Regions from separate parts of the Homo sapiens genome. Here all the other regions are reported to be linked to region 3. The links are microRNA targets in miRTarBase. Many come from high-throughput screens and were not tested one by one. Region 3 holds a microRNA gene; each other region holds the end of a gene's coding sequence.

Region 1 (10,124 bases), not on the chromosome of region 3:
GCCTTAGCCTCCAGAGTAGCTGGGATTATAGGCATGCTCCACCACGCCTTGCTAATTTTTTGTATTTTTGGTAGAGTCGGGGTTCTGCCATGTTGGCCAGGCTGGTCTCAAACTCCTGACCTAAAGTGATCCGCTTGCCTCAGCCTCCCAAAGTGCTGGGATTACAGGTGTGAGCCACTGTGCCCAGCCTAAAAATAGGTTTTTAATCCATTTTGAGTTGATTTTTGTGTAAGGTGTAAGATAAGAGTTCAACTTCATTCTTTTGCATGTAGATACACACATTTTCTATGTATAAAATCATGTCATCTGCAAGCAGGAACAATTTGACTTCTTTCTTTCTGATTTGGATGCCTTTTTTTTTTTTTTTTTCTCCAGAGTCTCACTCTGTCTCCCAGGCTGGAGTGCAGTGGCGCAATCTCAGCGCACTGCAACCTCTGCCTTCTGGGTTCAAGCAATTCTCCTGCGTCAGCCTCCCAAGTAACTGGGATTACAGGCTTATCACCACCACACCTGGCCAATTTTTGTATTTTTAGTAGAGTGGGGGTTTCACCATGTTTGCCAGGCTGGTCTCGAACCCCTGACCTCAGGTGATCCGCCTGCCTCGGCCTCCCAAAGTGCTGGGATGACAGGCGTGAGCCACCAGCCTTTTATTTTTCCTGTGCAATTGCTATAGTTAGGACTTCCAGTGTTTTGTTGAATGGAAGAGGTAAGAGTGGGCATTCCTTCTATACTTAGTTTGTTGATTTTTTAATCATGAATGGTTGTTAATTTTCAGATGCTTTTTCTGCATCTATTGAGAAGATTATATGGTTTTTGTCCTTCATTCTGTTAATGTGGTGTATCACAATTATTGATTTGCATATGTTGAACCATTGAACCATCCTTGCATCCCAGGGATAAATCCAACTTTGTTTTGGAGACAGGGTCTCACTCTGTCACTCAGGCTGGAGTGCAGTGGTGGTCATAGCTCACTGCAGTCTCAAACTCCTGGGCTCAAGCAGTCCTCCTGCCTCAGCTTTCCAAGCAGCTGGGACAATAGGCACACAGCACCACACCTGGCTAATTAAAAAAAAAAAATTTTTTTTTTTTTTTTTTTTTGCAGAGATGGGGTTTTGCTATATTGCCCAGACTGGGATAAATCCCACTTGATCCTGGTGAATGAGCCTTTTAATGTGCTGAATTTGGTTTGCTAGTTCTGGTGAGGTTTTTGCAGCTGTGTTCATCAAGGATATAAGGATATTGGTCTAATTTGCTTTTATTTTCTTTCTTTCTTTCTTTCTTTATATTTTTAGGTGGAGTCTCGCTCTGTCGCCCAGGCTGGAGTGCAGTGGCGCGATCTTGGCTCACTGCAACCTCCGCCACCCAGGTTCTAGCGATTCTCCGGCCTCAGCTTCCTGAGTAGCTGGTATTACAGGCATGCGCCACCACTCTCGGTTAATTTTTAGTAGAGACGGGGTTTCACCATTTTGGCCAGGATGTTCTCAAACTCCTGACCTCAGGTGATCTGCCCATCTTGGCCTCGCAGTGTTGGGATTACAGGCATGAGCCACTGTGCTCGGCCTAATTTTCTTTTCTTATAGTGTCCTTGTCTGGATTTGATATCAGGGTAGTGCTGGCCTTGTAAAATTAGTTTGAAAGTATTCCTCTTCATCAAATTTTTGGAAGTTTCAGAAAGATAGGTAGTAGTTTTCCATAAATGTTTAGTTGAATTCGGCAATGATGCCACCAGGTCCTGGGCTTTTCTTTGATGGCAGACTTTTTAAAATTATTGATTCAACCTTCTTACTCATTGGTCAGATTTTCGGTGTCTTTGTGATTCAGTCTTGGTAGGCTGTATGTGTCTAGGAACTCATCCATTTCTTGTAGGTTATCCAGTTTGCTGGTAATTTTTTATGGTAGTCTCTTAGGATCCTTTGTATTTCTTTTCTTTTCTCTTTTTTTTTTTTTTTTTTTTTTTTTTGAGACAGAGAGTCTTGCTCTGTCTCCCAGGTTGGAGTGTGTAGTGGCGTGATCTTGGCTCACTGCAACTTCCATCTCACGGGTTCCAGCAATTCTCCCACCTAAGCCTCCCAAGTAGCTGAGATTACAGGCATGTACCACCACACCCAGCTAATTTTTTTTTTTCGAGATGGAGTTTTGCTCATGTTGCCTAGGCTAGAGTGCAATGGCATGGTCTTGGCTCACTGCAACTTCTGCCTCCCGGGTTCAAGTGATTCTCCTGCCTCAGCCTCCCAAGTAGCTGGGATTACAGGAACCTGCTAGCATGCCTGGCTAATTTTTTGTATTTTTAGTAGAGACAGGGTTTCACCACTTTGACCAGGGTGGTCTCAAACTCCTGACCTCAAGTGATCCGCCCACCTTGGCCTCCCAAAGTGCTGGGATTACAGGCATGAGCCACCGTGCCTGGCCTGATCCTTTGTATTTCTATGGAATCAGTTGTAATGTCTTCCCTTCTCCCTCTCCCTTCTTTCCTTTCTTTCTTTCTTTCTTACAAGGTCTCACTCTTATCGCCCAAGCTGGAGTGCAGTGGTGGGATCTCAGCTCACTACAACATTCCCTTCCCAGGCTCAAGTGATTCTCCTACCTCAGCCTCCCAAGTAGCTGGGATTACAGGTGCCTGCCACCATGCCCAGCAAATTTTTGTATTTTTTAGTAGAGATGGGGTTCACCATATTGACCAGGCTGATCTCAAACTCCTGACCTCAGGTGATCCACCTGCCTTGGCCTCCCAAAGTGCTGGGATTATCTTTTTCCATTTCTAATTCTATGAGAGTCTTCTCTATTTTTTCTTAGCTAGAAGTTTGTCAATTTTATCTTTTCAAGAAACCAACTGAATTTTGTTGATCTTTTCATTTTTTTCAGCTCTGGTCTTTACTATTTCCTTTCTTTTATTTATTTTTGAGACGTAGTCTTGCTCTGGTCTTTATTATTTCCATTTATGTATATATGTATGTATTTTTGAGATGGAGTCTTGCTCTGTTACCCAGGCTGGAGTGCAGTAGCGTAATCTCATCTCACTGCAACCTCCGTCTCCCAGGTTCAAGCGATTCTTCTGCCTCAGCCTCCCGAGTAGCTGGGACTATAGGAGCGTGTCACCATACATGGCTAATTTTTTTGCATTTTTAGTAGAGATGGGGTTTTTCCATGTTGGTCAGGCTAGTCTCAAACCCCTGACCTCAGGTGATCTGCCCACCTTGGCCTCCCAAAGTGCTGGGATTACAGGTGTGAGCCACCTCACCTGGCCTATTTCCTTTTATTAACTGGGCCTAGTTCTTTTTATTTTCCTGGTGCCTTGAGGTGTAACATTGGGTTGTTTATCTGAAGTCTTTTCTTTCTGATGTGGGTGGGGATTGCTATAAACTTCTGTCTCAGAGCTGCTTTTGTTGTATTTCATGTTTTGTGTCCATTTTTGTCTCAAGATATTTTTAAAATTTTTCCTTTTAGTTTTTTTCATTGGCCTATTTGTTGTTCAGGAGCATGTTTAATTTCCACGTATTTGTAAATTTTCTGAAATTCCTCCTGTTACTGATTTCTAGTTTCATACCATTGTGGTCAGAAAAGATACCGCCCTAATATATGATCTGTCCTGGAGAATATTCCATGTATGCTCGAGAAGAATGTGTATTCTGCTGTTGGATGGAATCTCCTGTATATGGTAGGTCCATTTTGTTTAATGTGTAAAATCTGATGCTTTCTTATTGATTTTTTTTTTTTTTTTTGGCCTTGATCTGTCCATTACTGAAAGTGGGATATTGAAATCCCCTACTATTATTGTATTACAGTCTGTCTCTCCATTCAGAGCTATTCATATTTGCTTTCTATATTTAGGTGCTCAGATATTGAGTGAATATTTACAGTTGTTAAGTGACCCCTTTATCATTATACTGTGACCTTGTCTCATTTTACAGTTTTGACTTAAAGTTTGTTTTATCTAATGTAAGTATAGCTCTCTTGTTCTCTTTTGGTTTCTATTTGCATGAAATGCCATTTTCCATTCCTTCACTTTCAGTCTCTATGTGTCCCTTACAGGTTAAATGAGACACTTTTTGGCAGCATATAGTTAGATCTTTTTTTTTTTTTTAATCCAGCCACTCCGTTTTTGGATTATGGAAGAGTTAAACCATTTACATTCACAGTAAATGGATTGGAGAATTTAATCCATTTACATTCACAGTAGTAACTCCTTACCTATCCCTGTTGGTAGGTAAGGAGTTACTACTGCAATTTTGTTGTTTTCTGGTTGTTTTGTAGATCCTTTGTTTCTCTCTTACTGTCTTCCTTTGTGATTTATTTTCTTTAGAGGTATGCTTTGATTCCTTTTTATCTTTTGCATATCTGCTATAGGTTTTTGCTTTGTGGTTATCATGAAGCTTATGTAAAACACAGTGATAGCAGACTATTTTAAGCAGATAACTTTGATTGCATTAAAAACTATACTTTATTCTCTCTCCCACATTTTGTTTTTGAGGTCACAATTTACAAGTTTTATATTTTGTATCCCTTAACAAATTAGCTATTAATAGTTTTATCTTTTAACCTTTATACTAAAGATAAGCAATATATATACCACCATTACAGTATTAGAGTATTCTTGAGTTTGACATTATGCTTTTACCAGGTTTATACTTTCATATGTTTTCATGTTACTAATTAACATCCTTTTCTACCAGCTTGAACTCCCTTTCACATTTTTTTGTAAACACAGAGCTGGTGATGATGAAATGCTTCAGCTTTTGTCTGTCTGGGAATGTCTTTTTCTCCATTTCTGAAGTTTTGCTGGATAAAGTATTCATGGTTGGCAATTTGTTCTCCTTTAGCACTCTGAATATATCATCCTACTCTCTCCTGGCCTGTAAGGTTTCTGCTGAGAAGTGCTAGCCTTATTGGAACTCCCTTATATGTGATCTGCTTCTTTTCTCTAGCTGCTTTTAGGATCTTCCCCTTTGTCTTTTGATTTTTGACAATTTCATTATAATGTGTCGTGGTATAGTTTTGTTCATACTGAATCTGATTGGAGACTTTTGATACTCTTATACCTGGATATTTATATCTTTCTCCAGATCTGGAAGGTTTTCTGCTACTATTTTGTGATTTATTTCTTTCTTCTCCTTACTGAACTTCTATAACTCAAATATTTGCTCTTTTGATGCTGTCCTATAAATCCCTTAAGCTTTCTTCATTCCTTTTCATTCTTTTTGTTCTTCTGGCTATATTTTCAAATAATCTGTCTTTGAGTTCATAGATTCTCTGCTTGATCAATTCTGTTGATGCTCACTATTCCATTTTTCATTTCATTCATATTATTTTTCAGCTTCAGAATGGTTTGTAAAAAATATATAACTTCAATCTATTAGGTTTCTTGATTTGGTTTTCTTTATTTTGTTGAGTTATATCTGTGTATTTTCTTGAAGTTTGCTGAACTTCCTTAAAACTATTTTGAGTTGTCAGGCAGTTCATAAATCTCCATTTCTTTAGGGTAGATTTCTGGTGCTTTATTTTGTTACTTTGGTGATAGCATGTCTCCCTGATTGTTCTTGATCCTTGTGGTCATATGTTGATGTCTGTACATTGGATGAAGTGGTAAGGACTGATTCTAATCTTTGCAGTCTGACTTTGCCTGGAACAGCCGTTTACCAGTGAGCCCATTCAGAGATTCTGGGCAAGTTGTCTGGTGTGGTCTTCTGTGGGCAGGCTTGTTGCTGGAGTCCTTGAGCAGGCTGACCTAGTACCTAGGTCAGCAGATGGATGAGCCTGGTGCTTGCATGCATAGGATTAATCCTGGAACGTAGGTCCAGTGGAGTGGGCCAGTTGATTGGGTCTGCAGGGGTACAACCAGAGCCTGAGTCCACAAGGGCAGGCCTGGAGCCTGCATCCAGGGAGCTGACCTGAAGCCTAAAAACCTGCAGGGGTGGGCCTAGGTTCTGGGTCCATAGGGACTGTTCTGGAGCCTCAGTCCGCCAGGGCATGCCTGGCATTGAGGCTTACTGAGGTATGTGCCTGGAACCTGGGTCCACTGGAGCCTGGTGCTGAGGCACACATGGACCTTGGGTCCAGGGGTATTGTACTGGAGCCTGGGATTGTGGGTGCTGGCATGGGGGCATATAGATCAGCCTGGAGCCAGGGGTATATAGATACTGGCCTGGAGATTAGTCTCTGAGGGCTCGCTTGGATCCTGGGGCCATGGGGGCTGGCCTAGAACCTGGGGCTGCAGGGGATATTGGAGCCTAGTCTGTGAGGGCCAGCCCAGTGCTGGGGTTTACTCAGATGGGGCTGGACCAGGGTGGGGAGGGGGTGCCTGCTAGAGTGTGAGCTCATGGGTGCAGGCCTGGCAGTGGGTATGCTTAGAGCCTGTGTTCCTGGCGCAGGCCTGGAGTCTGGGGCTGGCATGATTTTGGGGTCCAATGTTCTCCTTCCTCCAAGTAGAGGGTCTCTCTCTCTCTCTCTCTCTCTCTCTCTCCACCCTGTGCTGCCTGGGGCTGGGGAGGGGGTAAGCTAGGTAATGTAAAATTGTCCCTCCTATCCTCTTTAGTACATCTTATTTCTGTGGTACACCAAGGTGCTGTAATCTCTAGAGGTTCCTTAACTCTTGTGAAGGTATTTTTGTGTGTGGACAGTTGTTTAAATTCATGTTTCTGCAGGGGGATGAGTGCTGGAAAGTCCTATTCTGACATCCCAAGTTCCCTCAATTTTTTTTAAAACAATAGTTCCCTCCTATATTCCTTGTTTCTTTTTCTTGCTATTTGAGTTTGGTGTTTTAACCAGTTCTTTTTATCAATGTAAAGTATTTAAGGCTCTGACTTCTCCACTGAGCCAATTAAGTTCTGCAAGGTGATGGGACTAACATTCTGTGCCGTCCCACATGAGCATTTCCCCTTTCAAAGTGAGAAGGAAGTAGGATGGAAAAGCTGAGACATATTCCAAATCGCTTTTGGTAACTTTACTTTTCAGGTTCACATATGTTAACAGAATCAATACACGATCAACTTGTTAAGTGATGTTACCAAATACTTATTTGGCAAAGTACATCCTTGATCAATGCCTTAGTGATTCTATAGCTAAAATATTAGATGTTTTATTTTGGGGGGAGTGGGGAAATAGCATAGACCGTCATTTAAACCTTCAGACAATTAGTGACTGTGTTGTACAAAAAAGATGGCGAAAGCCTTATCTAGATACCAAAATTCACATGTCATCCAACCTAGCTTACTCTTATTTTTTCCATCAGTTTCTAGGGCTGTGCTATCCAATACTGTCGCAAATAGCCCCATGTGGCATCGGAGCACTTATGATGTGGCTAGTCCAAACTGAGTGTTGAGGAAAGTGTAAAATGCCAGATTTTGAAGACTTTTACCTTATGTTGATGTTTTAGATATTTTGAGCTAAATAATATGCTAACATGACCTTTTTAAACTAATGTGGTTGCTAGAAACTTTCAAAATTATGTACGTGACTCGCCTCTTTCTAGTGGACAGTGCTGCTCTGTCTTCCTCCATTAGCTCCGTTCCCTCTAGATACACGTAACGCTGAGCCCAACAAGATCGCCTTCCTGTAACCATTTGAAGATAGCACCATGATGCTAGTTTAGTGTTTGCATTTATTTTAAAAATACACAAAATAGAAATTTTTACATCAAAGTGTGATAACCTCACTTACACATTGTTCCATACTTACCTGGTTTTGTTTGCATCTTTCTGCAAACATTAAAAGGAGATGGATTTGATTCTGATTTTTTTGCTATGGTTCATGTAAACAGTTGAGACTGCTACATAAAGTAGGTTGTTGTCAAAGGTGAAGTGGCCACAGAATCCCAAGAATAGAATAATTCAATTTGGTTTAATGAAATTGGTGGAGGTCTTAGCAGATAGATAATCCAAGACTAAATATTGTCTTCTAGGCATTTTAAAAATTAAGAACTTTGAGGTTTTCTTCATGTTGTAAACATAACTTAGACCTTGTTGGCATTAAGTTTACAAAAGAAAATATTAAACCATGATTTTTATCATCCTGCCCATGTCAGTATACACTCTCTTTATTATGAGAATGAAACCAAATAATAAGCAAAATACATCAGGAATTTCAAATTGTACTGCAAAGAAGGTCCCAGCTGGTCTCTTCTGGGAGTGATCTAACTAACTTAAGCTGACCCTGCGACTGGCTGAGGATAATCCCTTCTGTCCACTGCACCGTGCAATGCCACAGGTCATGAGATGGTCAGTTCCTCTTGCTCTGTGTCGTCTGAAGCAAGTCGAGGCCCTACTTCTGGTTCCGCCCTTCTTCCTTGGGCTTAGATTTGCTGGGTTAGTAGTTTGCTACTATTGTCAAGACTGTACTGTCCCTTTAAGGTACCACATGCCACCATAGCTTACACAGCAGTCCTATGAGAGAGAAACAGGGTAAGCACAGATTTTTGCAGGAAAAGGAGCTAATTACATTCTGTCCACAATGTCAACACTCGATTTATGATTAGTGAATAGAATACAAATGGGAAATCAAAAACTGCCTAACCATACCACCATGGCTACTACCAGCCACCCTTTCCTCAGGGGTAGTGTTTTTTTTTTTTTTTGAAACAGAGTTTTGCTCTTGTTACCCAGGCTGGAGTGCAACGGCATGATCTTGGCTCACTGCAGCCTCTGCCTCCCAGGTTCAAGCGATTCTCCTGCCTCAGCCTCCCAAGTAGCTGGGATTACAGGCATGTACCACTACGCCTGGCTAATTTTGTATTTTTAGTAGAGATGGGGTTTCTCCATGTTGGTCAGGCTGGTCTCAAACTCCTGACCTCAAGTGACCCACCCACCTCAGCCTCCCAAAGCGCTGGGATTACAGGTGTGAGCCACCGCGCCTGGCCATTCCTCAGGGGCATTTTAAAAGTGAGGGTGGGCCAGGCATGGTGGCTCACACCTGTAATCCCAGCTACTTAGGAGGCTGAGGCAGGAGAATTGCTTGAAACTGGGAGGTAGAGGTTGCGGTGAGCCGAGATTGTGCTACTGCACTCTAGCCTGGGCAACAAGAGCAAAACTCCATCTCAAAAAAAAAAAAAAAAAAAAAAAAGGGGGTCTACGAAATACAGATACTGACATGCCCAGAACAAGGGTGCTTAAAAAACAGTATTACTTATATGGCTCTGGATGTTTAATCAAAACAAGACATTGTCATCAGTTTTCTGTCTCTCAGTGTTGCTGCAAATATGGTTGGTATTTGTACTACAGTCACTTCAGAAAAGCATTATAGGTTGTACATTAGGTGCTTTCATATAGTAAACAGATCATATTCCTTTTTAAACTAAATTTAAGAATGGATTCTACTGAAAGTCATGTGTGTGGCTATGGCAACAATCAGAAGATAGTTCAAAATTCAAGGGAGAGTAGAGTGAGGATTCTCAACTAGGCCCTATCATTTTAGAAGACGCCTACCCACTGCCAAGCTCATCCAACCTACCATATTTTTTTGTTGTTCTATTGTTTTAGGCTCTTAGCAGCCTGAAGCCATGGTTTTTAGTTTCTGTCTCTAGTGACAAGCAGAGAAGAGGGATGAAAGGGGCATTACTGGCCTGGCCCAACCAGAAAGAGAAACAAAGCATCCATGGCTGTATTCTTTCCCTTGGACACCACTGTGACTATATTGTTTGAAGGGGTCAGTCCTCTGGCACATACCCCCTTCCCCAACCAATGCCAATCAATCAATCATTAACAGTTGCTCAAGACAAGACTGACTGGGGAGTGGTCCCAAGGAAGCCTGATTTCATATACACAAAGACACTAGAGTCCCTTCTACACACTGTCAGCCCCTTCCAGAGCCTTTGATATTGTTTGTTATGCACAAAATGGATGTACCTTTAGTACTTTATCCACCTCCTGTTTACTGAGATCTTCTCCACACTCTTGAGTCAACCGAGACTGGATCATGTTTCGGCGTACCCGGTAATTTTTGGAAAAAATTTCAAGCAAAACCTGTCGATGCTTTAGTAGCAAAAACACGTTATGATGGGAAACAGTGATCTAAAAAGAGAAACATCCCCAAACAAGACACCCAAGCCATGCACCTGACTTTGTGTTGCAGTCTCTGATAAAAACCCTCACGCAGCACCTCTGGTTAAAGATGAGCCAAGTCATCTCTAGAGACCC
Region 2 (10,124 bases), not on the chromosome of region 3:
GGCACCACTGCACTCCAGCCTGGGTGACAGAGCGAGACTCCGTCTCAAAACAAAAAAAAAAAGAGGGAAAAAAAAGAGGGGGCTGGGAACGGTGGCTCACGCCTGTAATCCCAGTACTTTGGGAGGCCGAGGTGGGTGGATTACCTGAGGTCAGGAGTTCGAGACCAGCCTGGCCAACATGGTGAAATCCCGTCTCTATTAAAAATACAACTATTAGCCAGGCGTGGTGGCACACGCCTGTAATCCCAGCTACTCGGGTGGCTGAGGTAGGAGAATTGCTTGAGCTCGGGAGGCAGAGGTTGCAGTGAGCCGAGATCATGCCACTACTCCATCCAGCCTGGCCGACAGAGCAAGACTCTGTCTCAAAAAAAAAAAAAAAAAAAAAGAGAGGGAAAGGCTGAGTTCTTTCAGGTGGGGCATGGAAAGAGAAGGGTGGAGGTCAGCAGGGAAGGAGCCTCTCAGGACAAGGGAGAAGCTCCTGGCAGACTTCCATCCTTGACCTTGGCCTTGCCCCCAGGTCCTGGACCGGATCAAAGGCTCACTGCTGCCCCGGCCTGGCCACAACTTTGTGCGGCACCATCTGCGGAATCGGCCGGATCTGTATGGTGAGTGAGGTTGTGCATTTGGTTCCTTGATGGATCACTCAACAAGTGTGGCCTGAGTTGCAGATGCCAGTGTATAGCTGCGGACAAATCAGTCACTCAGACAGTGTGACTTACCTGCTGTTCAGGGAGACAGAGACATGAAGGACTGCAGAGGGTGGCGGGTAGAGAGCAGCAGAGCAGACAGGAGGAGTGGCCCTGCAGTTCTGCAGGGTGCAGCAGGGCAGGCCTCCCTGAGGAGGGTGAGGGAATGAGCCTTGTTGGCAACAGGAGGGGTGGGGGAGACCTAGGAAAAGAGGCTTCCAGAAACGACGTAAGCTTCATGGCAGGAACTTGCATGAACTGCAGGGCGGCATTACCACTGGAGCGAGTGAGCTGCAGGGAGGTCACAGGCGAGGGGACAGATCACACAAGCCTCCCATGCTGTGGCAAGAAGAGATCTTTTTTTTTTTTTTTTGAGACAGAGTCTCACTCTGTCACCCAGGCTGGAGTGCAGTGATGTGATCTCAGCTCACTGCAATCTTCCCCTCCCGCATTCAAGCGATTCTCCTGCTTCAGCCTCCTGAGTGGCTGGGATTACAGGCACGTGCCACCATGCCCGGCTGATTTTTATATTTTTATTAGGGACGGAGTTTCACCGTGTTAGCCAGGCTGGTCTCAAACTCCTGACCTCAGGTGATCCACCCGCCTCGGCCTCCTAAGTGCTGGAATTACAGGTGTGAGTCACTGTTATCTGGCCGAGAATGGATCTTTAAGTGTTTTCGGGGTCCCTCTCGCCATCATGAGTGGCGAGGGCGGAAGCCAGGAGGCTGGGGTGGAGGCGGCCACATGGTGGGGACTGTGGATGTGGAGAGTGGCACTGGATTCTGGAACGTGCTGGGGAAGTAGAAGAGACTGGCTTTGTGGCTAGATAGGTGGGGGTGGGGGGAGTGGGAGGTTAGGAGCGGAGGCAGGCTCTAGGGATTTCTGCCTGGACTAACGGGATGGATAGAGTTGCCACGTATCCACGGGACCAGCTTGGCAGTGAGGGCAGAGGGCAAGGGTGTGGATGAAGCCGGAGATGCCCACCCGGGAGCTTGAACTGGAGCCTGCAGTGCTCAGGGCAGAGCCCTGGGCTCTAGAGGAGGCATAAGGCCCTGGGCTTGAAGGAGGTCATACTATGGGTGAACGCAGACATGGAAGGGGCCAAGAACTGGGCCTGGCTGCTCCCCATGGCTGAAGGGGTCAGAGAGTCAAAGAGGAGGTGACAGGGGTTGAGGAATTGGCACCAATGAGGTGAGACACAGGCCAAGGGTGTGCAGTCCTGAGTGTTTCGGGGAGGGGGATGAACTGACAGCCAGCACTGGGCTCAGCCACCAGGAGGCCCCCGGTGTCCTGGTGAGTCAGGCAAGGTGCTTAGGAAGAGGCTGGGGTCTCAGCACAGCTCAGTCAGGATACATGTCTGCTTGTCCTGGGAGTGCAGGGCCCGGGACCCTGACTGTGCCCCCTACCCCCAGGCCCCTTCTGGATCTGTGCCACGTTGGCCTTTGTCCTGGCCGTCACTGGCAACCTGACGCTGGTGCTGGCCCAGAGGAGGGACCCCTCCATCCACTACAGCCCCCAGTTCCACAAGGGTAAGCAGACGGGCAGGCCCAATGCCTGGCAGGGCCCTGGGGTACAGGGGGTGACTGCTCACCTTGCCCCCCCCAGTGACCGTGGCAGGCATCAGCATCTACTGCTATGCGTGGCTGGTGCCCCTGGCCCTGTGGGGCTTCCTGCGGTGGCGCAAGGGTGTCCAGGAGCGCATGGGGCCCTACACCTTCCTGGAGACTGTGTGCATCTACGGCTACTCCCTCTTTGTCTTCATCCCCATGGTGGTGAGTGTGGCCTGGCGCGGAGTGGGTGGTGGCTGTGTGGGGACACTGGCATGGTCACCTGCCGCCTCATTCCCATGGTGGTGAGGGTGGCCTGGTGCAGAGTGGGTGGTGGCTGGGGGGACTGGCATGGTCACCTGCCGCCGTGTTGCTCCCAGGTCCTGTGGCTCATCCCTGTGCCTTGGCTGCAGTGGCTCTTTGGGGCGCTGGCCCTGGGCCTGTCAGCCGCCGGGCTGGTATTCACCCTCTGGCCCGTGGTCCGTGAGGACACCAGGCTGGTGGCCACAGTGCTGCTGTCCGTGGTCGTGCTGCTCCACGCCCTCCTGGCCATGGGCTGTAAGGTACGGGTCTGGGGTGGCCACAGGTGGGGCCGAGGGGCTAGGGGGGCATGGGCTGGCCCTGCCTCTGACCCCAGGGGTCTTGTGCAGTTGTACTTCTTCCAGTCGCTGCCTCCGGAGAACGTGGCTCCTCCACCCCAAATCACATCTCTGCCCTCAAACATCGCGCTGTCCCCTACCTTGCCGCAGTCCCTGGCCCCCTCCTAGGAAGGCCCGGGTCCCACAGGTAAGGACTATTCCCAGCTGGGCTAAGGGGGCTGCCCTCCCACTCCCAGTCAAGGCGAGAGGTTCTGGGGCCACTCCCAGACAATTCTTTCTTTCAGGCAACACCTAAGTGGACCAACCCCTCTGCCTGTCCTGCCCCCCAGACGATGACTGAAGGCTCCTTTGACACCTTGAGATGATTCTGCTACTTTCCAGACTTTTCTTACAAAGCAAACACTTTTATTTTCTATGCAAAGGTGATTCAGAGAATTTATATAAAGGCGGGCGAGGGGCAGCCGAGCAGGGAGCTTTGGGACAGGGCTGGGGCCCCCATATCCCCCCCGGGCCACCTGCTTTCCCTCCTATGGCTCCCCTGGAACAGGAGGGAGAGCCAAGGGGGCGGCCCAGCCTGGACAGCGCCCGCTCCTGCCTGGGTGCACACACGGCGGGCCTGAGCTCCAGCATCTGAGTTTGGGGGTATGAGAAACAGGGGAGCAGAAGGAGAAGAAAACTGCCTGTGCTGCAACACGTTTCCTCATTTATTTTTTCTTTCTTTTTCTTTTTTTCTTTTTTTGGAGGGAGAGGTCCCTGCAAGGTCCCTTCCCGGGCAGGGGAGGGATGGAAATGCCGTCACAGTAGTAGGGACTGGAGCGTCTACAAGGATGGAGGGGAGCTACTCAGGCCTAACGTTAGCTACAAGGAAAAAGGACGCCTTCCGTGACAGATCCTTGAGGTGTCTGTGTCTGCCCCAAGTGGCCGGCAGTGGCCTTCCCTCCGGGCCCAAGGCCTGCAGCCACCTGCTCTAACTCTTGAGTGGGGGGGCGGGGGGGGACCTGCAGGGGCTCGGGGACAGGACAGCAGCAAGAGGCAGGGGCCGAGGACGGAGGCCTTCCCGACAGTGGGGTGGGTTGTACATTCAAGTGTGAGGTGAACCCTTTGGTGGGGAGGGGGCCCCTGAAGCCTCGGCGGGGCCACCCCTCCCCGCGGCGCCTCTGAGTCTAGGGAGAGGGGCTGCTGGCTCGGCCCGGCCGGCCTGGCTTCACAGAGGGTCTGCGGATTGACACTGGTTCTTTTCATAAAAAAATAAAATTAAAAAAAGCAGCATGTCACGTCCGTTGTGACCGAGGCCTGGTCGTCGAAGGGGAGGCCCCGCCTGGCCAGGCTACCTTCCCACTGGAGACAGGCAGGGGGACAGGTGCTAAGGGACCTGGCAGGCAGGGCTGGCAGGCCCCATGGCGCCTGTTCCAGCAGATGACAAGCCCAGGTCAGGGTAGAGCGGGCAGGAGGGGGGACGAGGGCTCCCACAACATGATTTTGTGTAAAATATGGCAGCGACACACGCTCAGGGCCGGGAGGTGGGGGTTAGGGTGGGGACGGCGGCAACATCGTGTAAAAAAGTGTCCCAGTTCCCATAGCAAAGAGAGCTGTGACCGGGTGTTCGAGCTTCTCCAGTACAAGGGGGAAAGCCGCCCGGCGGGGGCGGCGGGCAGGGACATCATTTGGTTTCCTGGTGCTGTCAGTCCGCGGGGCGGGCCCCTAGCTCCCGTAGTGCATGGTGTTGGTCGGGATGGACATGGGCGACGCCATGGAGATGGCGGGGCCGCCCATGGTGAACTGGCTGTTGACTGCATAGTGGGCACTCGTGCTGCCACCACCACTGCCCTGGGCGCCGGAGGACCCTGTGGAGCAGGCAATGGCAGTGAGGGGCTGCCCTGGCCCGCCCAGCCCCCAGGCAGAGTCACAGAGAGAGAGAAAGGGCAGGCAAGAGGGCAGGCGGGCGGCCGGACAGAGGATGGCGACTCACACGCTAGCTCGGCCCCCACGGGCCCTGCCCCCGCCACCCTCGTTACCTTGGACAATCCCCGTGCTCATTATGGAGCCCATCCGGGAGTGGGTGTGATTGACAATCCCCGTGTTGGCTGCGCAGCGAGAGGGAGGAAAGAAGGAAGGGAGACGGCGTCACCGCCCCCAGCCACCCAGCCCATGCACAGCAGCAGGCTGCAGAGCGAGGCAGAGAGGACGGAGAGCCTCGGCCGAGAGCCCCCAGGAAGAGGAAAAGGTGAAAGGACCAAGCAGAGGCCGACCCTGGTCACCACAGGCCCTTCCCGGCCCCTGGGCAGTCCTGGGCATGGCTCCCTGCTGCCCCTGGCCCTGGGGGACACTCACCTAAAGGAATCAGGTTGTTGTGGCCCACGCTGGAGCCACTGGCAATAACACTGCTCAAGTCATAGGCGGTCGGCATCCCTGTGTCCAGAGAGGGAGACGTCAGGGCTGGAGGCAGAGGGGCCAGGCCTGCGGCGAGGGCGGCCTCCCGGGTTGGCTGGGCATTGGGGTGGGCCCTGCTCACCTGCCACGGCCATCCCGCTGCTGAGGTTGTAGGTGCTGCCCGTGTTCCACATGTTTTCCGAGGGAGATGTGTAGTGGGAGCCGGGTGGGGGTGAGGGCGTTGTGCCCGTGTATCTATGGCAGAGACAGAGCCATGGGCAGGGGCAAGGGGGTTGCAGGGCCGGGGCGCCCCCCTGTGCAGGCAAGGGGCCCCTCCTACCTAAAGAAGGGGTTTTTCAGATCCAGGAGGTTACTGGACTTGGAGCCGGTCTGGTCCACCTGGGCCACAATACTGATGTCGTAGCTCTGTCTGCGGACAGGGTGCAGGCCGTGGCATGAGCTGCTGGGCAGATGGACCCCTGCCCACCACCACCAGCCCCAGGGAGCAGTCGCACCTTTTGTTGGCAATAAGCAGACATGTCCCTGAGAGCGTGTCCCCTGCCTTGGCGAACAGTGGTGACTGGAACAGGCACCGCACCTGGTACCAGTGGGTCAGGGGCTCTGTCGGGGCTGTGGACAGCCACACGGTCATTCTGTGGAGCAGGGACAGGCACATACTTGACTGGGCCGGCGCCACCACTGGAGCCACCACCTTGTATGCCTTGAGTCCTCCCCAAGCACCTGCCCCCTCTGCCAGGGACCCCTGGGACCCTGGAGCAGAGACAGGCTGGCCCCCAGGCAGTCCCAGACACAAACATGAGCAGGCATACATGTACACACGAGGGGCCCGCAACCACGAGATCCCTACTCACCCTGACATGTGCCAAGAGACAGACACAGACCCATGAGGGACAGACACTGGGAACACAGGACACACACACACATACACACACACACACACACACCCCACCCACAACAGTCTCTTGCTCCGAGACAGGCTCTCACTCCCATTGGAAGGGATGGTGGAACCTGGAGCCATGTTCCACCCCCCCAGCCAGGTTGCAGCTGCAGGAAGCCCTGGGAGTGGGGAGGAGGCAGCATGGGCTGCTCTGCGGCACTCACATGGAGCCGATGAAAGCAACGTCAAACCAGAAAGCCAGGCCGTGGACCAGCCCTGAATGCAGCATGTGGAATTTGAATGGGATTTCTATCCTGGAAGGCAAAGGGCAGTGGCTGCTGGGGAAGCCAGACAGGCGCTGCCGAGAGAGAAGAGGGGGTGCCAGGTGCAGAGGCCTGGGGCCCCCGCCCACCATCTGCCCTGGGACGGCAGGATGCCGGCGGGAGCCAGGGGTGGCCCTGACCTTCGGCCTGAGCCAGGCCTGGGAGGATGGAGTGTGGGTGCCAGTACCTGTGCAAATCTCCTTCTTTGGCTTCTAAGAAGTTCACCGTGTACTTGACAGACTTGGCCATCAGGATCCGGATGTCAAATGTGTCCTGGGAGAGACCACAGGTGTGACGTGGCATCTGACGCCAGGGCCAGCATGGGAGGGGAGAGCCCTGCCCCTTCCCCCAGGTCTGCCCACGGCTTCTAGGCTGTGCAGCTAAAACGAGCTTGCTCTTCCCAGACACGCCGTGAGGAGGGGACCGGCACAACGCCACCGAGGGCAATCAGGTGACAGCTCTCCAAATGACAAGTGTTTATCCACATAAAAGATTTGGCACTACAGGAGTTTAACCTCCAGATACATGAACACATCAACAAACTTACATGTATAATTAGATTGTCCGTGGTAGCGACACACTGGAAACCATCTAATTAAACCAGTGATGGCTCTCCCATCAAAGACCATGCGGACGTGAGAAAGAATGAAGAGGCTCTTTATGAACAGATGAGGAAAGATCTCCAAGCTAAATCATTAAGCAAGTTAACCAAAAAAGCAAGTTAAAGAACTAGGTGCTAGCTGGGTGTGGAATTGTATGCCTGTAACTCCAGCTACTCAGGAGGCTGAGGCAGGAGGATCGCTTAAGCCCGAGAGTGTGAATCAAGCCTGGGAAACACAGGGAGACCCTGTCTCTTAAAAACAACAACAACACTAGTGCTGCTGTCCACTCCCAGCAATGTTTATATCCGACTAACACACCTGCCATGAACTATGTAAACCGAATAAAATCCAAAGAAAAGAATAAACCAGTTGTTGGAAGCACTGGTGACCAACCAGAGCGGCCAGGATTTTGGGGATCAAGCTCCTGGAAAGGAGGGAAATGCCCTTTCTGGAGGGAGCCCTTTCTGGCCTCTACCTTTTCCCCATGGGGAGGGCAGAAAACGGCCACCTCGACCTTTCAGCAGCTTCCTTGGGTGGGGAAAGCAAAATGGGAGCTCAGGGTTACCAAGGCAGCTCGGATTCAAGGGGCTGTGATGTCAAAGCAAAGGGAAATAAGTGCAGGAGGGCAAGGTGGGCGGTGCACACTCAGTGCGCTTGTGAAATTGGCCAACTCCTGAGCTTTGAGCGAGGCAGGGCATCAGAGGCTAAGACACCAAGCAGAAAGCCGCTAATAAGAGGCTCAACGCCAGGTGCAGTGGCTTATGCCTATAATCCCAGCACTTTGGGAGGCCGAGGCGGACGGATCACCTGAGGTCAGGAGTTCAAGACCAGCCTGAGTAACACAGTGAGGCCCCATATCTACAAAAAAATAAATTAGCCGGGCATGGTGGCACACTCCTATAGTTCCAGCTACTTGGGAAGCTGAGGCAGGAGGATCACTTGCGTCTGGGAGATCGAGGCTGAAGTAAGCCATGAAGTGATTGAGCCACTGTACTCCAGCCTGGGGAACAGAGTGAGATCCTGTTTCAAAAAACAATAAAAGCTAACGGGTGGTTCAGCAGCATATTGGTAATGAGGCTAACCACTGGACTTGCATTAACATTACCAAAGGCTGTACCATAAAGCAGCACCTTCTCAAACTGTGGCCTCTTCCAAGGCACCCTCATCATAATACAAAATTTGCATAATACCACCAAAATATTTCCTGCTTTTTTCACTCATTCACTCCCCAGTGATATCACAAAAGACTGAACACGCTGGGCATGGTGGCTCACGCCTGTAATCCCAGCACTTTGGGAGGCCGAGGCAGGCGGATCACCTAAGGTCAGGAGTTTCAGACCAGCCTGGCCAACATGGCGAAACCCCATCTCTACTAAAATTACAAAAAACTAGCTGGGAGTGGTGGCAAGCGCCTGTACTCCCAGCTACTCAGGAGTCTGAGAATCGCTTGAGCCCGGAAAGTGGAGGTTGCAGTGAGCTGACATCATGCCACAGCACTCCAGCCTGGGCAACAGAGCAAGACTCCGTCTCAAAAAAAAAAAAAAAAAGAAAAAGAAAATGAGAGAAAAAAATGGATGGAAAAGACAGAAAAGAGTATAACAATCATCTGAGATATGGTGAAAAGGTTCACTGTACACGTAATTGGAATCCCAGAAGGAGAAAGAATGGGGCAGACGTAGTGTTTAAAGAGATAGTATCCAAGATAGTCCAAGAGTCTCCCAAAACGAATGAAAAACATCAAGAGCAGGGGGAAAACAGAATAAAATGGAACCTTTTTTTCTTTTTTTTTGAGACGGAGTCTCACTCTGTCGCCCAGGCTGGAGTGCAGTGGTGCGATCTCGGCTCACTGCAAGCTCTGCCTCCCGGGTTCACGCCATTCTCCTGCCTCAGCCTCCTGAGTAGCTGGGACTACAGGCGCCCGCCACCACGTCTGGCTAATTTTTTGTATTTTTAGTAGAGATGGGGTTTCACCGTGTTGGTCTCAATCTCCTAACCTCGTGATCTGCCCGCCTTGGCCTCCCAAAGTGCTGGGATTACAGGTGTGACCCACTGCACCTAGCTTTTTTTTCCTTTTGATTTTTAAATCATGGATCTATGTATCAAAAATCTCAAGTAAAATCAATCAATAAATCACATCAGCTCACCAAGGATAAATTCATCTAGTAATGGTTCTTTTTTATTTTTATTATTTATTTATTTTAATTTTAAAAATAGCGATGGCGTCTCTGTGTTGCCCAGGCTGATCTTGAACTCCTGAGCCTAAATGCCCCCTCTGCCTTAGCCTCACCTAATAATGTTCCACATGTATTGCATGTGTGCTGTGTGCTAAGTGTCTACATGCATTGACACTTTTGGCCCAAATCTCTGTGAGAGCGCTGTGCAGGGCAGAGGAGAGGGCTCAGAGAGGGGCTGTAGCTTCCTGAGGGCTGCACAGCTGCACAGCAATGGCAAGTGATCACTGCAGCAGTACCCTGGAGGCCCTACTCACCACCACAGGCTGCCGGAAATACTCATCCACCGCGGCACCTCGGAGGGCCGACAGGTCCACTCCATGGAAAGATGGCTGGTACCTGTGGACAGGCCCCACCCCCACAGCAAGGTCAGGGCTGCAGAAGAGGCAGGTGGGGTAGCCCTGCCTTCTCTCCCAGTCAGCCCTCATCTAGCCCAAGTCTTTCAGAAAAAGAGGAGTGCAGGCTCTCTGGGGAGCTGGGGCTGTCCCTGAGAAGGCAGGCTGTGGGGCCCAGGCGGGACACCCAGGGCACACTCACCAGAAGTTGGCCTTGGTGAACTGCTCCATGTAGAGCTGTTCATCCGTGAAGGGTGCAAGGTGGACGTCACCAATGGTAGGAAACATGTTTCCTGGGAGTGGGGCAGGGAGGGGTGCTGGCGTCAGGTGACACATCCCACACTGCCTGGCAGAGCTTCCAAAGGACCCCAAGACCCCCAACCCTGGGTGCTCCCAGCCTGTCATCCATTCGTTCCTGCACTCCTGTGACAGTGGCACCGAGCGCCTATTCTGATCAGTGTTTCATCACCACCACGGGTACCTGACCTGCACCAGCTCACGAATTCCACCTGAGACTGGGAGGCTGGTGGCTC
Region 3 (10,124 bases):
CTCTCTGACTTGTGATCAGGGTTCCTATTTTTTTTTTTTTTTTTTGGTTTTTTGTTTGTTTTTTGTTTTTGAGACGGAGTTTCGCTCTTGTTGCCCAGGCTGGAGTGCAATGGTGTGATCTCGGGTCACTGCAACCTCCGCCTCCTGGGTTCAAACGATTCTCCTGCCTCAGCCTCCCAAGTAACTGGGATTACAGGCGCCCACCACCACGCCCAGCTAATTTTTGTATTTTTAGTAAGACGGGGTTTCACCATGTTGGCCAGGCTGGTCTCGAACTCCTGACCTCAGGTGATCTGCCCACCTCGGCCTCCCAAAGTGCTGGGATTACAGGCGTGAGCCACTGCGCCCGGACTCTATTTGGTTTTAAAAGCTCTCTAGGGTTCCCTCTTCCCAGACAGCCAAATTAGGGAGTGACATAACCCGCAGCACAGTTGTCAAAGGGGCCCTTAATTATTCACCCATCCCAGAGGCATCGTTTGAAGAAAGTGCCTTCTTTAAGGGCATTGGCTGCCTAGATGTGTTCAAATATAAATGTGTGTGTGTATACTTACATTTTTAATAGACTTTTATTTTGGAATAATTGTAGATTTACAGAAAAGCTGCAAAGAATAGTACAGAGAGTTCCCTCAAATTCTTCGCCCAGTTTCCTCTAACATTTGCATCTTACACAGCCATGGCACATTTGTCAAAACTAAGAAATTAACACTGGTATTACTTTTAACTAAAGGCTTTTTTGGATTTTACCAGTTTTTTCACTCATGCCTTGTTTTGTTCCAAAATCCAACCCAGGATATCACACTGCATTTAATCAAATGTAAATACGTATGCTTTAACTTTTTTATTTTAAAATAATCATAGATTTACAGGAAATTGCAACAACAACAAAAAAAGTACAGAGATTCTGTGTACCCTTCCCCCAGTTTCGTTCAGTGGTAACTCCTTGTATAACTACACAATATCAAAACCATGAAATAGATATTGGCACAATCCATAGACAGTATTAAATATACATGCATATATATATATTTTTAAGTGAAAAATATTTTTAAACCTCGCTTTGCCTCACAGCCAAGAAGATCAAATACTTTCTCCAAAAACATAGAATTTGTATCTAACTCCACTCGCTCCAAACTCAAGTCCAACCATGAAATTATTGATCCCTCTCTCTAACCCTCCAACTACAGGCAAGAAGCTGCCCATACATTCCCCAAAGCAGGAGTGCACTCTGCCACAGGCCTAGATGCCGTCAACCTCCTGGACCTTGAACTCCCTAAATTAATGGCCTCTGTGTGAGTATGTGTAAGCAGCCCCTCTCTGTCCCAGTCCATCCTAAAATCACTCCCTTGGAGCCACCACTGCCCCTCTCATCTTCTAGAATTTCTAGAAAGATAAAGAGCTAGATAAGCATCTAGGTACCTTTCTTCTGCTGTTAGCTCTAAAGACAAGTGAATATATCCTAGCTAGGATGTACTCTAAGGAATGCAGAAGTAGGCCGAGTGCAGTGGCTCATTCCTGTAATCCCAGTGCTTTGGGAGGCCGAGGTGGGCGGATCACCTGAGGTCAGGAGTTTGAGTCCAGCCTGGTCAACATGGCAAAGCCCCGTCTCTACTAAAAATACAAAAATTAGCTGGGCGTGGTGGCGGGTGCCTGTAATCCCAGCTACTCGGGAGGCTGAGGCAGGAGAATCACTTGAACCCCCAAGGCAGAGGTTGCAGTGAGCTGAGATGGTACCACTGCCCATTTCAAAAAAAAAAAAAAAAGAATGCAGAAGTAAATTAAATGACCACAAAGAGTTTTTTTTAATTTGAGACAGGGTCTGGCTCTGTCACCTAGGCTGGAATACAGTGGCGCAATCTCAGCTCACTTCAATCTGTGCCTCCTGGGCTCAAGCCATCCCCTGACCTCAGCCTCCTGAGTAGCTGGGACTACAGTCCTGCCACTATGCCTGGCTAATTTTTGTATTTTTTGTAGAGATGTTGCCCAGGCTGGTCTGAAACTCCTGAGCTCAAGGGATCCATCCACCTGGGCCTCCCCAAGTGCTGGGATTACAGGCATGCGCCACCGTGCCCAACCCAGACATCACTTTTATCTGAAGCAACAACTATCTGCTCTTTCTGTTTCCTTACTAATTATCCAGGAACTTTTACAGGTGAACTCTGAGGAGGACAATTTTTATTGTTTTTATGTCAGCATAACTAAAAGTAAAGCTGGATAGGAAGAGGTTACTTGAAAATGATTTCACCTGAACTCAAATGAATAAGCTGGCTACTGCATAAAGCAACAGAGGGGTCCCTTTAATTTAAAAGCTCAGGACTCTGAATCAATTGCTGGTTGGGAGAAGGTAGAGACATTCTTTACTTCTGCCTAGAACTGGGGAAAATGGCGTAGACTTCTGCTCTGAAGCAGTCCTCAGTGCTGCTTCGGTCAGAACTCCCGAGAGGCATCTGAGTGCTGGCCTGTCACTGCGGCTGGCATTCCAGGCATTTCATTGGCCCCACTTCAGCCCACGCCTGGCTCCACGGGGCTGGGCAGCTGAGGGGAGTTTGTGGCAGAGTGGGCATGGGGCACGGCCCGTGCAATGTGCGTTACAAAGGGGCTCTCTCTGAAGCAAGTCCTCTGCACTCCAGTCTATTTGAGGAAGAAAAGGACAATTCCCATAGGGAGGGGGTTTGCTGAAGCAACCAGCTGCCTGGTTTCCTCTCCAGCATTGAGAGGGAGGGAGGGCTGGCTTAACTGGGGGACGGCCTTCTCATCTGGACTGTGTCAAGGCCAAGGTTAGGCTCCAAATTCCAGAAAACCTCTCTGCAGGGTCTTCTTTCAGAGTGGTGAGAATGGAAGCAGGCTCCCTTCCCCTCCAGCACTAGGAAGCCCCGCAATTGGTGAGGTGCAAAGAAAGATGGGCCCAGGCAGGGAGGCGGGAGCAGGGGAGGTGCCCAGGGCAGTGGCTGGAAGGGCAACGGGAGAAGCAGCAGAGGCTGGGGGTGGGGGTCGCAGCAGGTGCTGTCCCTGGCCTGTGTGAAAGGTACTAGAAGGCCCCATCCTTGGTGCCACATGGACCCCAGAGGCTTGTCTTAGTCCATGGGGTCCGAGGTGTAAGACACTTACGTTTGGCGTCACCTCTTAGGCTTGGATGAATTTCAGAAAGTGCTAGACTGGAGAACAGTGGAAAAAATCAGTGGAACAAGATCTGGAGCACTCACTGCTCAATGTCAATGTTAGAGAGCACAACGACACCAATGGGAGGAGGGTGAGGACCAGAGGCTGATTGCATGAGCTCTGTTGGAGTGCAGGACCCACTAACGGGTTATCTCAGGGTTCCTGGAGGCCACGGCTGTGCCTTGTGGTCCAAGACCTGGGGAAGCCACCACTGTGTCTTCCCTCTCCATCCTCCGGTGACTTTGGTCCAATTCCTGTTGCCATGGCAATCAGCCCAGCTGGCCTCACAGTTCACTGGCCTCAAAGTTGGCATCTGTAGGTGAAGCCAGTGGGACCCAGAGAACTTAATTCTTCTCAACTGAGCTGGCTTGGAGGAACTTTTCTCATCAGCCACTGGAGCAGAGAACGTCACCAGCGTCTCACTGACGTCAACATCCTGGGCCTGGCTCTAGCTGAAAAGGAAAATTCTCCCCAAGGCAGACACATCTCCCGAAGCCCACACAGGCACTTTCTATGATTGCACTGGAAATCTGTCTCCTGGGGACAGGGAGCGCGTACGCTCACAGTCAAGTCACAATGTTGAGCAGTCTCCAGGACTCCACGTTCATCTCTAAGAACAGGAGCCGGTGGTTGGGCGCAGATTCTTGAGCCAGATTGCTCGCGTTCAAAACCTGGTCCCTTTTTATTAATTGCATGCTTAGTTACATTTTCTGTTTGTACTTTTGTTTCCTTCTCTGCAAGACGGGGTTAATCACAGACACTTGTACATGATGTAATACACTTACAATACTTAGGACAGGCCTTCCTGCATAGTAAGTGCTCTGCAAACACTGGCTACTATTCTCCCTACGTGCAAACTTCTCCCAGCCAAAAGCCGCCCACACCAAGCCCCTGTGCCTTTTTCCTTCCGCACCCACGAGCAGGCTGCTCCTGGGGCCCTGGAGCTCACTTTCCCAGCCGCCCTCACCACCCACCGTGGCGCAGAAGAGCTTCCGAAGTCCTGGCGTCTCCCACTGGTCTGGGCATCTCTCGCTTCATCTTCCCTCTTGGGCCCCACAACGTGCAGCACTTCTAGGGCAGTATACTTGCTGATTGCTTCCTTACTATTGCTCACAACAACCAGCTAAGACACTGCCAAAGAAACACTCACAGCTGGCCGGTCCACGGCATCCGGAGGGGACTCGGGGGACAGGCCTGTCCTGCCTCTCCCCAGCACCTGTTGATAAGAAGGAAATGTGGGGAGGAAAGAAAGGATGCAGGAGGCCGAGGTGGGAGGATCGCTTCAGGCCAGGAGTTCAAGACCAGCCCAGGCAACTAGCAAGACTCCATCTCTACAAAAAAATTTTAAAAATTAGCCAGGCATGGTGACATGCGTGCCTGTAGTCCTAGCTACTGGAGAGGCCAGGGCAGGAGGATCGCTTGAGCCCAGGGGTTGAGGCTGCAGGGAGCTGTGATTGCGCCAGTCTGGGTGACAGGGTGAGACCCCGTCTCTAAAAATAAAAATTGGGTGATGGCTCACACCTGTAATCCCAGCAATTTTGGAGGCCAAGACAGGAGGATCACTTGAGGCGAGAAGTTCAAAACCAGCCTGGTTAACATAGCCAGACCACCACCTTCAGCAACTGTCTCTACAAAATGAAAATAAAAATAATGAAAGAGAGAGGATGGAGGAGAAGGCTGAGACCAGTAACAGATTCCAAAAGGACTAATTGACAAGGAGAAAAAGAGTCAGCACTTCCCTGGAAGAGAAAAAATTCGAAAAGGACAGTGGTTGAAAAGTCAGCATGTCTGCGTGAAAGGGAAGCAATGAAGTAGCGCCAACTCCTCCCCCGTCCCGGGCACCGTTTAGGGAGAGGATCAGAGTTCTGCCAGAGAATCAGAACCAGAAGGAGATATAGATTAAGTTTATTTCAAGGAATCGGCTTACGTGATTGTGGGGGCTGGCTAGGCAAGTCTGAAATCCAGAGGGCAGGCCAGCAGGCCGGAAGCTCCCCGGAGGAGCTGACACTGCAGTCCCCAGGCAGGATTTCTTCTTCTTCAGGGAAACCTCGGTTCTGCTCTTGAGGCCTTTCAACCGATTGCATGAGGCCCACCCACCTCGCAGAGGAGAACCTTTGACTTACAGCCAGTGATCATCAGTGCTGACCACATGTACAACGCACCTCACAGTAGCACCCAGGCAAGCGTTTGGTTGAATCATGGGTATCACAGCCTCGCTAAATTGACAAGGAAATTGCCCATCACAGGGTTTAAGATCTAGTGCTTTAAGATCTACTGACTTCTTGTTGTTTTGTTGTTGTTGTTTTTATAGAGATGGGTTCTTGCCATGTTGCCCAGGATGGTCTCAAACTCCTGGGCTCAAGTGATCCTTCCGCCTCGGCCTCCCAAAATACTGGGGTTATAGGCATGAACCACTATGCCAGGCCAAGATCTAGTGACTTTGGATACGGACCACCACGGAACAGTTCCTCTTCCATGTGGGTGTGGGGGCATGAAGGACTGTTTTCAGGAGGATCAAAGTCACCTCTACCCCAGCATGGGAAGTCCCAGAAACTTGAGTTCCAGGTAAGGTAGTGCAGAAAAAAGCAGGCTCATGAGCCAGTGCTGTCTCTCTCTGTGCAAGGGGGAAAGAGCCCCTCTGAGGCCTCCACACACAGTCAGCAGGACACAGGACACAGAGGTCAGCCTGTTGTGGCCACTGTGAAATGTCCCGTTGGAGTTGACAGGAGCCTGCTCTGACCTCAGTCCTCCTCCTCCAAACAGGTGACCCTGTAATGCTCTGGTTAAAAAGCAAGCCAGCTGGACTGTGTTATCTTTTAGTGTGGGAAAAATGCTCTTAGGCCGGGCGTGGTGGCTCACACCTGTAATCCCAGTACTTTGGGAGGCTGAGGTGGGTGGATCACTTGAGATCAGGAGTTCGAGATCAGCCTGGTCAACATGGTGAAACGCCATCTCTACTACCAAAAAAAAAAAAAAAATACAAAAATTAGCTAGGCATGGTGGCATGTGCCTGTAGTTCCAGGTACCTGGGAGGCTGAGGCAGGAGAGTTGCTTGAACCTGGGAGGCAGAGGTTGCAGATCACACCAGTGCACTCCAGCCTGGGTGACAGAGCGAGACTCTGTCTTAAAAAAAAAAAAAAAGCTCCTAATATGTCAGATTTTAACCCAAAGGTAAATTCCAGCAGGGCATGCTCATCAGCTAGAGCGGCAGGTCTCGGCTTCACTGTGTAAGCATCGGCTGGGGAGCTTTTGGTAAAATGCAGATTCCCAGGTTCAAACCTAGAAGTTCAGACTTGGCAGCTCTGGGATGATGCCAAAGGTACATCCTGCAGTTGCTGTGTCCCCAGGTCAGCGCAGAGACAAGCAAAAACTCAAAGCTTCCTCCCTCCCTCAACTCCCAGCCAAGACTGGACGGGGCAGGGGACCCCAGAATCCTGAAAACAGATAGCCACATGGAAACAGTGACCACAGCACACTTGAACTTTGTAAGCACAGCAGAAGCGTGTGGGATGGGCTGGCCCATCCAGAGATGGGGTGCAAGAGGCAGGAATCTGGCCTCATGGTGGCTCCTGGCTTCAGCCCCAGCACTGCCACCAGAGGGAGGGCCGTGTGTTTTCAGGGGTGGGCATGGCAGGGGTGTCAGGCAAACACTAACACAGTGAAGTGCAACTGCCAAGTCTTCCAGCCAGCCCGATCCTCAGGCTCGGAAACGGTCCCAGAGGAAAAGATGGTTCAGAAGAGAGAGAGAGTAAGATCCCGGGGACATCTGAGCCAAACCACACGCACTTTCCACTGCTCAGCAGCCCCTGTCCCAGACTTCCAAACAGAATTCCATTTTCTGAATCTAGACAGCCACCTGGGTGAAGGCATCTACCCATGAAGGCTGCTGCCCCAGGCACCAGAAGGACAGGAGGGGGCCCTTCCTCTTCCTCCTGAGTCAGGACCCTCAGATGGAGAAGAAAATCCTCCTAGTCAGAAAGAGGAGGCTCTGACTTTAGGGACAATCTTTCTAGTTAGAGAGAGGAGGTCTGAACTCTGTGGACAATCTTTCCAGTCAGAGAGAGAAGGCCTGGACTTCAGGGACAATTTTTTCTGGTTAGACAGAGGAGGTGGTGGTGGTAGTGCATGCCTGTAGTCCCAGCTACTCAAGAGGCCAGGGTGGGAGGATCACTTGAGCCCAGGAATTGAGGCTGCAGTGAGCCACTGCGCTCTAGCCTGGGTGACAGAGCAAGACCCTGTCTCTAAAAATAAAAATAAAAAATTGGATGGTGGCTCACATGCGTAATCCCAACACTTTGGGAGCCCAAGGGGGGAGAATCACTTGGGGACAGCCTTTCCAGTCAGAGAGAGGAGGCCTGGACTCTGAGGACAATCTTTCCAGTCAGAGAGAAGAGGCCTGGACGCTGAGGACAATCTTTCCAGTCAGAGAGAAGAGGCCTGGACTCTGAGGGCAATCTTTCCAATCAGAGAGAAGAGGCCTGAACTCTGAGGACAGTCTCTAGTCAGAGAGAGGAGGCCTGGACTCTGAGGACAGTCTTTCCAGTCACAGAGAGGAGGCCTGGACCCTGAGGACAGTCTTTCCAGTCAGAGAGAGGAGGCCTGGACTCTCAGGACAATCTTTCCAGTCAGAGAGAGGAGGTCTGGACTCTGAGGACAGGCTTTCCAGTCAGAGAGAGGAGGCCTGGACTCTCAGGACAGTCTTTCCAGTCAGAAAGAAGAGGCCTGGACTCTGAGGACAGTCTTTTCAGTCAGAGAGAAGAGGCCTGGACTCTGAGGGCAATCTTTCCAGTCAGAGGGAGGAGTCCTGGACTCTGAGGACAATCTTTTCAGTCAGAGAGAAGAGGCCTGGACTCTGAGGGCAGTCTTTCCAGTCAGAGAGAAGAGGCCTGGACTCTGAGGACAGTCTTTCCAGTCAGAGAGAGGAGGCCTGGACTCTGAGGACAATCTTTCCAGTCAGAGAGAAGAGGCCTGGACTCTGAGGGCAATCTTTCCAGTCAGAGGGAAGAGGCCTGGACTCTGAGGACAGTCTTTCCAGTCAGAGAGAGGAGGCCTGGACTCTGAGGACAGTCTTTCCAGTCAGAGAGAGGAGGCCTGGACTCTCAGGACAATCTTTCCAGTCAGAGAGAGGAGGTCTGGACTCTGAGGACAGGCTTTCCAGTCAGAGAGAGGAGGCCTGGACTCTCAGGACAGTCTTTCCAGTCAGAGAGAGGAGGTCTGGACTCTGAGGACAGGCTTTCCAGTCAGAGAGAGGAGGCCTGGACTCTCAGGACAGTCTTTCCAGTCAGAGAGAGGAGGCCTGGACTCTCAGGACAGTCTTTCCAGTCAAAGATTCTAGGCCTGGACTTTGGGGACAGCCTTCTCCATCAAGAGAGAGGAGGCCAGGATTTTAGGCAATGGGGAATAATTAATCAATACATGAAAATTGATTGTGTTCCACAAAATACAAAACGTACCAAGTCAGCAATCTTTAACCATGTCAGACTTCCCTGGAGTCACAACCTGAGGACAGAGATTTAAATGATGTTCCTTTCTACAGAAAGGCCTTCACTCTAAGTATCAGGCCCAGCTTCTGCTGCATTAAACATAAGATGTATAAGGCCCCAGGCCTGATGTGTCTTGCTGCCCAGCCAGCCCTGCTGGTCCAGCAAACCAGGAGGAATTCGAGAAAATCAGAAGCCATCTTTAGCAGGAAATAGAACTCCAGAGGGGCTGTGAGCTCCTTCAGCACAAAAGAAAACGTTGATTCTGGCCGGGTGCGGTGGCTCACACCGGTATATCCCACTGCTTTGGGAAGCTGAGGTGGGTGGACCACTTCAGGTCAGGAGTTTGAGACCAACCTGGGCAACATGGTGAAACTCCTGTCTCTACTAAAAACACAAAAACTAGCCGGGCATGGTGGCAGGTGCCTGTAATCCCAACTACTTGGGAGGCTGAGGCGGGAGGATTGTTTGAACCCATAAGGCGGAGGTTACAGTGAGCCGAGATGGTGTCACTGCACTCCAGACTGGGTAACAGAGGAAGACTCTGTCTCAAAAAAAAAAAAAAAAAAAGAAGAAGAAGAAGAAAAGAAAATGCTGATTCTGGTAATGATGCTCTCGGATGGTATGATTCCCAGAAACACAGGAGCTCTCACCATCACTGGGATGTGAAAATTCACTCAGGAAACCTCCTCAGCCCCACAGCACATCTCCCAGAAGCATGATGGTCCCCTCCACATCCAACACACAGCCACCGAGAGCCTCTGACCTGTGGACACCATGCTGGGTGTTCACCAGTCATGGCGGGGGGACAGACAGGTGTCCTGGGCCTTGGAGAATCTAATGTCCGTGGAGCAGACACAGGCAAGAAATCACAGCTGGGCAAAATTACAATGGGGAGCAGTGCTAGGGAGGAAAGACCCCTAGCTTCTCTTCCAGAGGAGAAGGTAGTCTGGGATGTCGTCCCCGTGGCCTCATCAATGAGATCAGGGAAGGGTAACAGGGAACACGCCGCACCACGGGCATCAGGGTGGGTGAAGTAGGGCTCGGGGAGGGAGGACCAGCAGCCTGGGAGGGTCGTGTGGTGGCTGAAGTTGCCAAGGAGGCCACGGTGTTGAAGCAACCAAGAAGGCGGGGACAAGTGAGGCAGAAGTGGGCGACCTCGCAGGCCTCCACGAAGAACCCGCCTTTGTTTTAGGAGCAATGGGAAGACACAGCATGTTTAGAGGTGGAGGGATCTCTTGCCAGAACTGTTCTAGAAGCCTGGTGGCGGGGACTGGTAAATATACTGAAAACCAAACCAAACAAAACGAAGCCCCATACCCTTACCCCCCACCACGGGCATGCTTCCACCATGACAGCAAACATCAGGTTGCGGGTGTGTGGGGTCATGACCTCATCCTCTGCTCCCATTTCCCCAACAGCACCTAATGCACAGCGGACACGGGCAGACCCTTCACACGTGACTATGTCCCAATGATCTTTATGTGT

What was found. Region 3 holds the annotated microRNA hsa-miR-34a-5p (UGGCAGUGUCUUAGCUGGUUGU, at 4,272-4,293, opposite strand). A microRNA usually pairs through its seed, bases 2 to 8, with sites in the 3' UTR of a target mRNA and lowers its output. Matches are read on the target gene's strand: a 7mer-m8 pairs with bases 2 to 8, a 7mer-A1 pairs with bases 2 to 7 and ends in A, and an 8mer does both.
Region 1: the mRNA of POLR3E is a reported target of hsa-miR-34a-5p. The part of its 3' UTR that is shown has no 7-base or 8-base seed match.
Region 2: the mRNA of YIPF2 is a reported target of hsa-miR-34a-5p. The part of its 3' UTR that is shown has no 7-base or 8-base seed match.

What each region holds. Positions count from the first base shown.
Region 1 is chr16:22,331,895-22,342,018 of GRCh38, reverse strand. It overlaps POLR3E (RNA polymerase III subunit E), which reads right to left. Exons shown (of 21, transcript NM_018119.4): 20 at 9,834-9,959; 21 at 6,923-8,375. The coding sequence ends at 8,319. It overlaps LOC124903664 (a long non-coding RNA gene), which reads left to right. Exons shown (of 2, transcript XR_007065026.1): 2 at 3,537-8,109. Among named protein-coding and RNA genes, the nearest start is that of CDR2, 38 kb to the left of the region's middle.
Region 2 is chr19:10,916,167-10,926,290 of GRCh38, reverse strand. YIPF2 (Yip1 domain family member 2) reads left to right here. Exons shown (of 10, transcript NM_001321439.2): 5 at 518-605; 6 at 2,099-2,215; 7 at 2,292-2,458; 8 at 2,614-2,796; 9 at 2,884-3,019; 10 at 3,117-4,098. The coding sequence ends at 3,000. It overlaps CARM1 (coactivator associated arginine methyltransferase 1), which reads right to left. Exons shown (of 16, transcript NM_199141.2): 7 at 9,794-9,884; 8 at 9,514-9,595; 9 at 6,611-6,696; 10 at 6,325-6,414; 11 at 5,718-5,855; 12 at 5,543-5,632; 13 at 5,345-5,457; 14 at 5,164-5,241; 15 at 4,848-4,916; 16 at 3,216-4,676. The coding sequence ends at 4,534. Among named protein-coding and RNA genes, the nearest start is that of YIPF2, 7.4 kb to the left of the region's middle. RefSeq lists a silencer at 5,080-5,259.
Region 3 is chr1:9,147,464-9,157,587 of GRCh38, forward strand. It overlaps MIR34A (microRNA 34a), which reads right to left and starts at 4,314; the gene lies at 4,205-4,314. It overlaps MIR34AHG (MIR34A host gene), which reads right to left. Exons shown (of 2, transcript NR_132742.1): 2 at 548-4,372. RefSeq lists a silencer at 4,123-4,359.